3 linked regions of the Homo sapiens genome follow. The protein of the gene in region 2 purifies or fractionates together with the protein of the main gene of each other region. This does not show direct contact. Each region holds a gene or a part of one and is shown on either strand. Other genes may lie near its edges.

Region 1 (3,651 bases), on a different chromosome or scaffold from region 2:
CCAAAGATGGTCCTGTGTTAGTCACCCTTAAACTTATCTCACCCCTCTTAAAGAATTTAAGTTCAACACGGGCAAGAAATATCTATGCTATCTTCATACTATCTACATAGAAGGCTTGCACATAGTGTACATTAATATACTGTTTTAATTTACTGTCACGATAATTTACAAACCAATGTGGAAAACTGATAAAATTATATGTGAAGTTTCAATATGAGTACTTAAGACTGTCAATTATGCATTCATTAAATAAACTTTATTAATTAACTAATCTACAAATAATACATGTGAGTCCTAAACAGCCTAACCACCATTTCAATTCTTAGACAAGCTGGTAGTGTTTTCTTAACATAAATTAGCTCTCTAGATAACACATTTCAAAAATATTATTAATAATGCAGTGTTAGCAGTCATTAACATCAATTTCAAAGAGTTCAACGCATCACAATGAATTTCAAAGTAAAAATAAACTTAACAGAAATCCTTTCAAAGATGCAGAATATTGGTACTATGTAAACAAAAACTAAATGTTACATAATTTAAGTCAGAAAAAGACTTACTCTGCAGCTAGCCAAGCAATGAACTTTCATTTTGGTTTAAAGTGCATGACCTATCACTTCACCTAAGTCACAAAAATTCATCTCTCAGGCAGTTTTTCTTAACAGCTTAAGATATTGGCCAGGTGCGGCGGCTCACACCTGCAAAGCCAGCACTTTAGGAGGCCATGGTGGGCTGATCACGTGAGGTCAGGAGTTTGAGACCAGTCTGGCCAACACGGTGAAACCCCACCTCTAATAAAAACACAAAAATTAGCCGGGTGTGGTGGCAGGCACCTGTAATCCCAGCTACGCAAGAGGCTGAGGCATAAGAATCACTTGAACCTGGAAGACCGAGGTTGCAGTGAGCCGAGATCACTCTACTGCACTCCAGCCTGGGGGATAGTGTGAGACTGTCTCAAATTAAAAAAAAAAACAAAAAGTATCTAGAGGTGGCAGTCAAATGCTCTCTAGTTATTTCAATTTGTAATTGATTCGACAGAAAGAACTATTTACTGAAAAAGAAAACCAGAACTTTAAAAGTGCCTGTTTATGTATTGCTGCAGTTCTAATTTGTGACCAAATATGCAAATATGTTCTATAATCTTAGTATATCTTTATTACCAGGCACAAATCAAAACTTTAGGAAATACCAAGTATATAAGACTTTGTCCACGTAAAAAATTAAGACTGCAAGTGTTCAGAAGACAATCTTCCAAACTAGAAAACTCTTTAAAACACAAAGCATGACATTATTTCCATGGCTACTTTCTTTTTTTGTTTGTTTTTGTTTTTTGAGACAGGCTCTCATGACTTTTCTAACCAAAACACTAGCCATCTTTAGCACTGGAAATGAATTTACAGGTTGAGCATCCCTAATCTGAAAATCCAAAATCTAAAACTTTTTGGGTACCAACATGACACTCAAAGGAAATGCTCATTGGAGCATTTTGGAATTCAGATTTTCAGATTAGGGATGCTCAACTGGTATGTATTCTGCAAATATTCTGAAACCCAAAAAAATCCCAAATCCAAAACACATCTGGTTCCAAGCATTTTGGATAAAGGATACTCAACCTGTATGCCTTTAAGTGCCAGCAAACAAAAAACACACATAAATGAGAATGTTTTTAATCAACATCCAAATATTACAATTTAAAAAAGCCACCTCTAGAACTGACCTAATAATTTCCCCTACCAAACACGCCAGCAAACCAAATTTAAGAAAATATGTTTCAATGGATCTTAAACTACTTCTATTATCAAAAAAATTTAAAACACCAACTGTTTTAATGCTAATATGTCCTACGGAAAAAAGCACATACATTTTTAAGTGATATACAATCTATAACTTCTAAGTATTTTGTATAATCTTTCTACTAATAGAATTACCAAAAAAATTTCCAATAAGAGTATTTAAGAAAAACTTAAAAATAAGATACTTTGTTCAAAACTGTGTATTTTAGCAATAGTTCCCTGACGCAGATAAGATTCCCCAGTCCCCTAGCATTATTACTATAACTATACTTGGTAGTACTACTATATTTAAACTTACTACATTTATGGTATATATTCGTATATATTCTACTTTAACTCAAATCCTTACCCTACTTAAAAAAAAAAAAACCCAAAAGGTTTTCAAAAATGTACTAAAAAAGTCACAAGTTAATTTCTGTTAAAATATTTTGCTTAGTTTTCGATAACTCCACTGAAATTTTAAAAATAAGAATCTTGAATTATTACATTACCAGAAGATTAAGGGTCAGCATTCAAGAGCACTGTTCAAGATCACCCTATATCACAAGAACTCTAATTACGCAGGCTCTAGCTGTTTACAACCTTAAAGACATTACCAAAAAATAATACATTGTATTAACTACCTTATTTTTTTAATCCAAAACCCCAGGCATTGTATATCAAATGGCCATCCTACAAACAAAAAATTCTTTCAATGACTCTAATATAACTGAATCTGACAAAAACATTCGGGAGACGATGAGAAATCAGTGGTTTGAATAAACTGCACACCTGGAAAAGGAATACACATATAGATATGTACATACGTATACATACGCATATGCATATATATACATATATGTGTATACGCATATACATACGTATGTATATACATGTATATATGTATACACGTATACGTGTGTATATACGTATGCGTATACGTGTATATACGTATTCATATACGTGCGTATATACGTATACGTGTGTATATGCGTATATGTATATGTGTGTATACGTATATGTATACGTGTGTATATATGTATATGTACACGTGTGTATATATGTATACGTACATATGTTAAGGGACAAGTAAGAGACATATTTAATGCTTTCAACTTTCTAAAGCTTTTAGGTCAAGAGTTTTTTTTAACATACAAATGTGAATTTTAAAAACTTGAAAGAAAATCCAATAATATACATAGGAATAAGAATTTTTGAAAACAAGTAGTAATAGCTAAATTTCTGCCAGAAAGGAAAACGTTATACAAAGTGCAGACTAAATTGGGGCCGGGGGGTTGGGGGTGGGGGGGCATGGCAGGACAAAAATCAAAGCTAAAAAGGGAATTCTGGGAGTTATTCAATTCCATTATCTGCCCTCAGGTAAGTAGCCTAAACCTGCCCAGTAAAGGAAAGCCAACTCTTAAGACTTTCAGGGAATAAGAATTCTGAAACCAACATAGCTCAACATTCCACAAAAAATAAAAATAAAAAACAAAAAAATACTGCTTCGAGGACTGTTAAAAGAAGGATGAAACTAAATAATTCAAGACTTCCTACAGCAGGACTCCAGCTCATTCACTTCATTCAGAACCCAATTCAAACAGAGGGTGCGAAGTTATATAATGTCAGGCTTTACATTACACACCCCACTGGTATGTTCAGGCTCACAAAGATGCAACCAAGAACTATATGCGGTTGCAAGCACATATTACAGAAGGTTTTATTTTAATGTTAAGGCTGATGAATCTTGTCCTAAGCAGGTAGGACACCTCACAAGCACTGAGTCTGAAGCAGTGAAGATTTTTTTTTCTTTAGTTTAACAAACTGCTTAATCGTTCATCAAATTACCCCATATATCATGAAGGCCCCAAACATAGTG
Region 2 (3,651 bases):
CCCAATGTGCCAAGACCCTCCAGCGGCTTCTCACTTCATTCTCATCTCACTCCACGAAAAACCAGAGCATTGCCCAGGCCAAAAGGCCCCACCCATTGCCCCCTCCCCACACATCTCCAGTCCCCAGCCCCTGACTCTCCCCCACTACAGGGGTCTTGGGGTCAGTGCTGGCTGCAGCTCTGGGGTCTCCTTCCCAGGGCCCTCCAACCTTCTACCCTGAGGCTCCTCTCCGCTCCCCTCCATGCTGCTCTATGTTCCCCTCCTTCATCTCCCTTTTAACACACCGTGTATTTTTAAAAATGTATCGTGCTTATGGTCTTTGTCTCCCTGCAACCCAAATAAGAATGGGGACAGAGATTTTGATCAGTTTTCACCCCAACTGTGGCCACCTGCACAGCATCTGGTACTTCACAGAAAACAGGTTCTCTTTTGGGAATGCACGAAGGAAGGCTGACTTCCCAGCAGGGCCCTGGGGAGGGGCTCTGACCAGAGTCCTGGGAGCCAGGACAAGGCCAGCCTCACCCCACCCCCCACCCGATGGCCCATACTTCCAGAGAACAGGACACACATTCCCCAATCACCTGCTGGACAGGACAGGTGCTAATGCCCTCACCTTCCTTCCTGTGCTCAGAGACCTTCCTCACTCTAGACCCTCCCTCTAACCAAGACAACGACCCAGACCACTCTGCTAGCGAGTACAGTCCCTCCACAAGGGCTACCACTGCTATCCCTTTTCCTCTGGGAACCTCATCTTACCTCCAGCCACCAGGCAGGAGTCAATGCGAGCAGCAAAGTTTCCCGAGCGCTCTCATCCACTGTGAGTCACTTAATACTCAGGACAAATGGGTGAGGTCACTGGGGCCCAAAGATCCTGCCAGGGACACTCAGCCAATCCCTGGTGGAGCTGGGACTAGAATCCAAGTAGTCTGACCTGGAGTCAAAGAGCCCTGCATCTCCCTTGAGAAACCAGGCCTCAGAGCAGGCCAGAGGAGCTCCAGGCACTCAGCACACAACTGGCGCAGCTGGTCCAGCCCAGCCTTCTGCATGGACAGCCTTCTGTATGGTAAGAGTTCCCATGTACCCTGTAGTTTGGTCTGTGAGCTCATCTGCAGCAGATAGCATCTTCTACTATATTTCTGGAGGCCCTTGGGTTCTACTGATGCTATTTCCTTTCTCGGCTCCATCCTATGGGTCCTTCCAGCCCTGGCTCAGGCACTGCCTGCTGTGACTTCCCCCATGGCAGAGGCCTCTGCCCTCAAGGTCCCTCTCCTTCTCTTCCTTTTGCAGACATGGTGCCTGTACATGCCTGGCACTCTCCATCACCCAGGGAACAGCTGTCAGCAGAGCAAAAGGGCAAGGGCTGCCATTCCAGCTCCCAGTGGAAATCACAGGCTCAGAGTGGGCAGCAGGAATGCCTTCCACCTCCATCCACTGCCTCTAATGGATAAAGGAATTCCCTGCTAGTGGGTGGGACCCAGGTGAACAGGTCGGCCAGCTAACGGGGACCTGCAGCCAGAGGGACCAAGGAGTCTGAGATGCTGAGGGAAACGCCCTGCGCTGGAGAACCTGGTCTCCAGGAGCTGAGGTTCCTCACTGCAGAGGGCAACCCCGGTCCTCATGGGAGGCTGGAACTCTGGCCCTCTGTTAGTGAGATTGTAAGCCTCAGGGTGCAGCACAACCATCCTGTGACAAGGGCGGACACGAGGGCTTGGTTCAGCAGGGAAACTGGATTCTGATCCCATCAAGGAAGGGGTCCTCACTTCCAGCCTGGCTGACCTGGGGCCTGGGCACTTCCTGGCACTCAGCATCCAGGCTATGAGCCCTTGTACTGGGACAAGCCTGGGACCTGCCTCCAGGGGCCGCCCCCTCCCTGGCTGCAGACTGCACACTGACTCTGTTTCCACCCCTGCAGCAAAGGTCCCCGGCAGGCTGGGCAGGCATTCCCACTTGCGTGGAGTCAGCAGGCCTCTGCAGCGCTGACTGCGTGCCAGACTGACTGCGTGCCAGACTGACTGTGTGCCAAGTCTGCCAGTCCTAGGGCTTTCCCAGAGCTAGGATTCCCCTCTCTGAGGCTGGCTTCCAGGGCCAGCGGCCCAGAGGTTAGGGGCCGACGCCCATGTGCCAAGAGCACGGCTCTCCCTGCAGGCTCCGCCCCGTCACAGGAGGCTCCACGGGGCAGCAAGTTACCTTTTCACACTCCTCTCGTACTCAGTCCGCTGGCGGCACAGCTCGGCCCTGAGCTCAGTGACCAGCCCCTGTAAGGCCTCGGAGCGGCGCGCGTGTTCCCGGGTGGGGCTGTCCGGCTCGCTGGGCTCGCTGTTGCTGGCACCCGCGCCCGCCTCGTCCATGCTGTGGTCCAGGTCCAGGGACTTGGGGTCCTCGCTGCTGCTGGGGAGCGGGGAGGGCTCCAGGGCCCAGTCGGTGTGCAGGGAACTGCGGGCAGACGAGTCGCTGGCGCGGCAGGCCGTGCAGCTGCTGAGTGAGCCCCCCACCGACGACTCGCTGGACGAGGCCCCGGACCACGCCATACTGGCCACGCTGGGTATGCCGGGGACCAGGCCCGGCGCGGGCACATTGTCGTAGGTGGAGAGTCTCTGCACGGAGCCCGAGTCCTTGAGCCGGTCTCCCGACGAGGCCCGGCGGTGTCCGCGCAGGGAGGACAGCCCGTTCATAAGCCAGTTCCCGCCGGAGGAGATGATGGGCACCTCCAGGGATGAGCCGCCCCCCTTCGGGCTTCCCGATAGGGACCTCGGCTGCCGGAAGGAGGACTTCCAACTGGGCAGGGTCTGCACCTTCTTCCCAGGGCTGCACCGGCTCCCCGGCCCCGTGGGGGCTGTTCTGGAGAGCACCGCCACGGCCGCCCCGTCCAGGGAAGAGGTCCTGTGCGCGGGCAGGCCGGGGCCGCCGGGCTCTCCTTGGCTGTCCCTGGTGACCTCCTCGGAGCCCCACCCCACTGCGCATTGCAGGCCCCCGCGCGGGGAGGTGGGCCCTTCCGGGACCGGTGCCGTGAAGAGCTGGCTGTGTTTGCGGATGAGGACGGTCATCAGGTGCTGGACGAGGGAAGTGCCTGCCGGGAAGAGAGGCGGAGAAGGGCCTTGCTGCCAGCCACTCGGCCCAGGCTCGCTCTGCCAGTCATGGAGAAGCTGCAGCTTCGTGGGAGCTGGCCCTGTCCCCAGAGCCAGGCCGCCCCTCAAGGGAGCCTTCATCCGCCCAGAGGAAAGGACCACACACCCTCCAACTCCAGGCAGGACAGCAGGATGGGGCCGCAGAACCGCCTTCCTCAGGCACAGAGCCGCAAGCAGGGAGGAAGCACTGTGCCTGCGCTCACGCCCTCCAGCTGGGGTGGGGTGAGGAAGCAGGCACCAAGGCTGCACGGTGAGCAGGTGGCAGGTTGGAACTGGAACCTGGGACCTGAGATGCCAGAACTCTCTCGGCTGCCCCACGTCACCCCTCTGTGCTGCTGACAACTGCCATGCCTGAATGTCCACACTCTGGGAGCATAGGGCTCTGGGACAGGGAATAGAGCCATCTTTCCTGTGTGGGGGCACACACATACAATTGCACACACAATGCACCCCGCCCACCCCCTAAAATACCCCCCACAATCACACGTACAATGCACCCCATCCACCCCCAAAGTCCCACACACAC
Region 3 (3,651 bases), on a different chromosome or scaffold from region 2:
TAAAATACAAAAATTAGCCAGGCGTGGTGGCACACGCCTGTAATCCCAGCTACCCGGGAGGCTGAGGCACAAGAATTGCTTCAATCTGGGAGGCAGAGGTTGCAGTGAGCCGAGATCATGCCACTTCACTCCGGCCTGGGCAACAGAGTGAGACTCTGTCTCAAAAAAAAAGAAAATGCCAGGCGCGGTGGCTCATGCTTATAATCCCAACACTTTGGGAGGCCAAGGCTGGCGGGTCACCTGACGTCAGGAGTTCAAGACCAGCCTGGCCAACATGGAGAAACACCATCTCAACTAAAATGCAAAAATTAGCTGGGCACGGTGGCGGCTGCCTGTAATCCCAGTTACTCGGGAGGCTGAGGCAGGAGAATCGCTTGAACCCGGGAGGTGGAGGTTGCAGTGAGCCAAGATTGTGCCACTGCACTCCAGCCTGCGTGACAGAGCGAGAATCTGTCTCCAAAAAAAAAAAAGAAAGAAAATAACAAGTGTTGGCCAGGATGTGGAGGATGCAGAGAAACTGAATTGAAACCTATATTACACAGTATGCTAGGACTGCCATAACAAAATACCATGGAGTGGAAGGCTTAAGCCACAGAAATTATTCTCACAGCTCTGGAGGCTGGGAGTCCAAGATCAAGGTGTCAGCAAGGTTTGTTTTAGGTGAGGTCTCTCTCCTTGGCTTGCAGGCAGCCCCCTTCTACCTCTGTCCTCATGCAGCTTTTTCTCTCTGTACACGCACTCCTGGTATCCAGTCCTTTTCTTACGAAGACAGCAGTCCTGCTGGATTAAGGTCTCATCCTTATATCTTCTTTTTTTTTTTTTTTTTTTTTTTTTGAGATGGAGTCTCGCTCTGTCGCCCAGGCTGGAGTGCAGTGGCGCGATTTTGGCTCACTGCAAGCTGTGCCTCCCGGGTTCACGCCATTCTCCTGCCCCAGCCTCCCCAGCAGCTGGGACTACAGGTGCATGCCGCCACGCCCGGTTAATGTTTTGTATTTTTAGTAGAGACGGGGTTTCACCGTGTTGGCCAGGATGGTCTCGATCTCCTGACCTTGTGATCCGCCTGCCTCAGCCTCCCAAAGTGCTGGGATTACAGGCATGAGCCACCCGCGCCCAGCCCCTTATGATATCTTCTAACTTTTTAATTTCTCTGTAAAGGTCCTATTTCCAAATACAGTCACACTGGGGCTTAGGGCTTCAACACGTGAATTTTCAGGGGGACACAATTCAGTCTATAACAAAACCTTTGTACACTGCTAACAGAATGTAAAATGGTGCAACCAGTGTGGAAAACAGTAAGGCAGTTCCTCAAAAAATGATACATAAAGCCTGGGCAACCTAGCGAAATCCCACAGCTACAAAAAAATAAAAAAATTAGTTAGGCATGGTGGCATGCACCTGTAGTCTCAGCTACTTAAGAGGGTGAGGTGAGAGGATAGCTTGAACTGAGAAGGTCAGGGCTGCAGAGAACTGTGACTGCACCACTGCACTCCAGCCTGGACAACAGAGCAAGACCCTGTCTAAAAAAAAAAAAAAAAAAAATTGGCCGGGCGCGGTGGCTCACGCCTGTAATCCCAGCACTTTGGGAGGCCAAGGCGGGCAGATCATGAGGTCAGGAGATGGAGACTATCCTGGCTAACACGGTGAAACCCCGTCTCTACTAAAAATACAAAAAATTAGCCGGGCGTGGTGGCGGATGCTGTAGTCCCAGCTACTCGGGAGGCTGAGGCAGGAGAATGGCAAGAACCCAGGAGGCGGAGCTTGGAGTGAGCCGAGATCACGCCACTGCACTCCAGCCTGGGCGACAGAGCAAGAATCCGTCTCAAAAAAAAAAATTTAAAAAAAAATTACACATAGAATTACCATTTGCTCTGTCAATTGTCGATTCCATTTCTGAGTATATATATTCCCAAAAGAAATGAAAGTAAAGACTTGATATTTGTGGCTGGGCGCGGTGGCTGACACCTGTAATTCCACCACTTTGGGAGGCCGAGGCAGGTTGATCACCTGAGGTCAGAAGTTCAAGACCAGCCTGCCCAACATGGCGAAACTCCTTCTCTACTAAAAATAAAAAAATTAGCTAGGCATGGTGGCGCACATCTGTAATCCCAGCTACTCGGGAGGCTGAGGCAGGAGAATGCCTTGAACCCAGGAGGCAGAGGTTGCAGTGAGCCAAGGTCGCGCCACTGCACTCCAGCCTGGGTGACAAGAGCGATACTGTCTCACAAAAAAAAAAAAAAAAAAGATATTTGTACACTGATATTCATAGCACCATTATATTCACAAGAGCAAAAAGGTGGAAACAACCCAAATGTCCATCAATAGATAAATGGATAAACAAAATGTGGTATATATGTATAATGGAATATTACTCAGCCTTAAAAAGGAATAAAATTCTGATACATACTACAAGATGGATGAATCCTGAAGATATTATGCTAAGTAAAATAAGCCATACACAAAAGATCAAATATTATATGATTCCACTTACATGAGATACCTAGAGTAGTCAAATTCATAGAGACAGAAAGCAGAATGGTGATTGTCAGGGGAGGAGAGAATAGGGAGTTACTATTCAATGGGTACAGAAACTCAGTTTGGGAAGATGAAAAAAGTTCTGAAGCTGGATTTTTATTATGGTTGCACAAAAAGAAGAATGTACTTACTACTACTAAGTAGCACACTTAAAAATGGGTAAAAAGGTACAAACAAGCAAAAACCAAGAAAACACAACGAGATACCACTTCACACCCATTAGGGTGGCTATCATCAAAACACACAAATAAAAAACCACATATACACACACAAATTTATCAAAAAAGGAAAAACAGAAAATAAGTGTTGGGGAGGATGTGGGAAAATTGGAACCCTTGTGTATTACTGGTGGGAATGTAAAACGATGCAGCCATTGAGGAAAACAGTATGGTGGGTCCTCAAAAAGCTAAACATATAATAACCAAGTATCAACTGGGTGCAGTGGCTCATGCCTGTAATACCAGTACCTTGAGAGGCCAAGGAGGGAAAATGGCTTGAGGCCAGGAGTTTGAGACCAGCATAGGCAACATAGGGAGACCCTGTCTCCACAAAAAAATTAAAATAAAAAAATTATGGGCCAGATGTGGTGGCTCATGCCTGTAATGCCAGCACTTCGGGAGGCCAAGACAGGAGGATCACTTGAACTCAGGAGTTCGAGACCACCCTAGACAACAAGGCAAGACTTCATCACAAAAAATAAAAATTAAACAAAAAAATTAGCTGGTTGTGGCAGCCCATGCCTGTAGTCCCAGCTACTCAGGAAGCTGAGGCGGGATGACTGCTTGAGCTCGAGTTCGAGGCTGCAGTGAGCCATGACTGTGCCACTGAACTCCAGCCTGGGCAACAGAGCAAGACCCTGTCTCAAAAAAAAATAAATAAAATAATTAATAATAATAATAATTACCATATAGCAATTTCCCTTCTGGGTATATACCCAAAAGAATTCAAAGCAGGGACTCAAAGAGATATTTGTACACCAATGATCACAGCATCATTATTTACAATAGTCAAAAGGCAGAAGCAACCCAAGTGTCTGCTACAAATGAATTAATAAACAAAATGTAGTGTACACACACAACGGATTAAGCCTTAAAAAGGAATGAAATTCTGATACACAGT

What was found.
Region 1: the proteins of ARHGAP22 (region 2) and KDM6A purify together in Homo sapiens (affinity purification with mass spectrometry; 2 studies listed by BioGRID and IntAct, with this or other methods). This does not show direct contact.
Region 3: the proteins of ARHGAP22 (region 2) and RBM6 purify together in Homo sapiens (affinity purification with mass spectrometry, with the first as the bait; one large-scale study listed by BioGRID). This does not show direct contact.

The regions. Positions count from the first base shown.
Region 1 is NC_000023.11:44,876,047-44,879,697, reverse strand, and holds part of KDM6A (lysine-specific demethylase 6A), read right to left. Parts: intron 1-3,651. UniProt on the Homo sapiens protein: Histone demethylase that specifically demethylates 'Lys-27' of histone H3, thereby playing a central role in histone code. Demethylates trimethylated and dimethylated but not monomethylated H3 'Lys-27'.
Region 2 is NC_000010.11:48,448,074-48,451,724, forward strand, and holds part of ARHGAP22 (rho GTPase-activating protein 22), read right to left. Parts: intron 3,535-3,651; coding exon of another isoform or gene 3,281-3,534; exon of another isoform or gene 3,068-3,280; coding exon 2,188-3,067; intron 1-2,187.
Region 3 is NC_000003.12:49,943,065-49,946,715, reverse strand, and holds part of RBM6 (RNA-binding protein 6), read right to left. Parts: intron 1-3,651. UniProt on the Homo sapiens protein: Specifically binds poly(G) RNA homopolymers in vitro.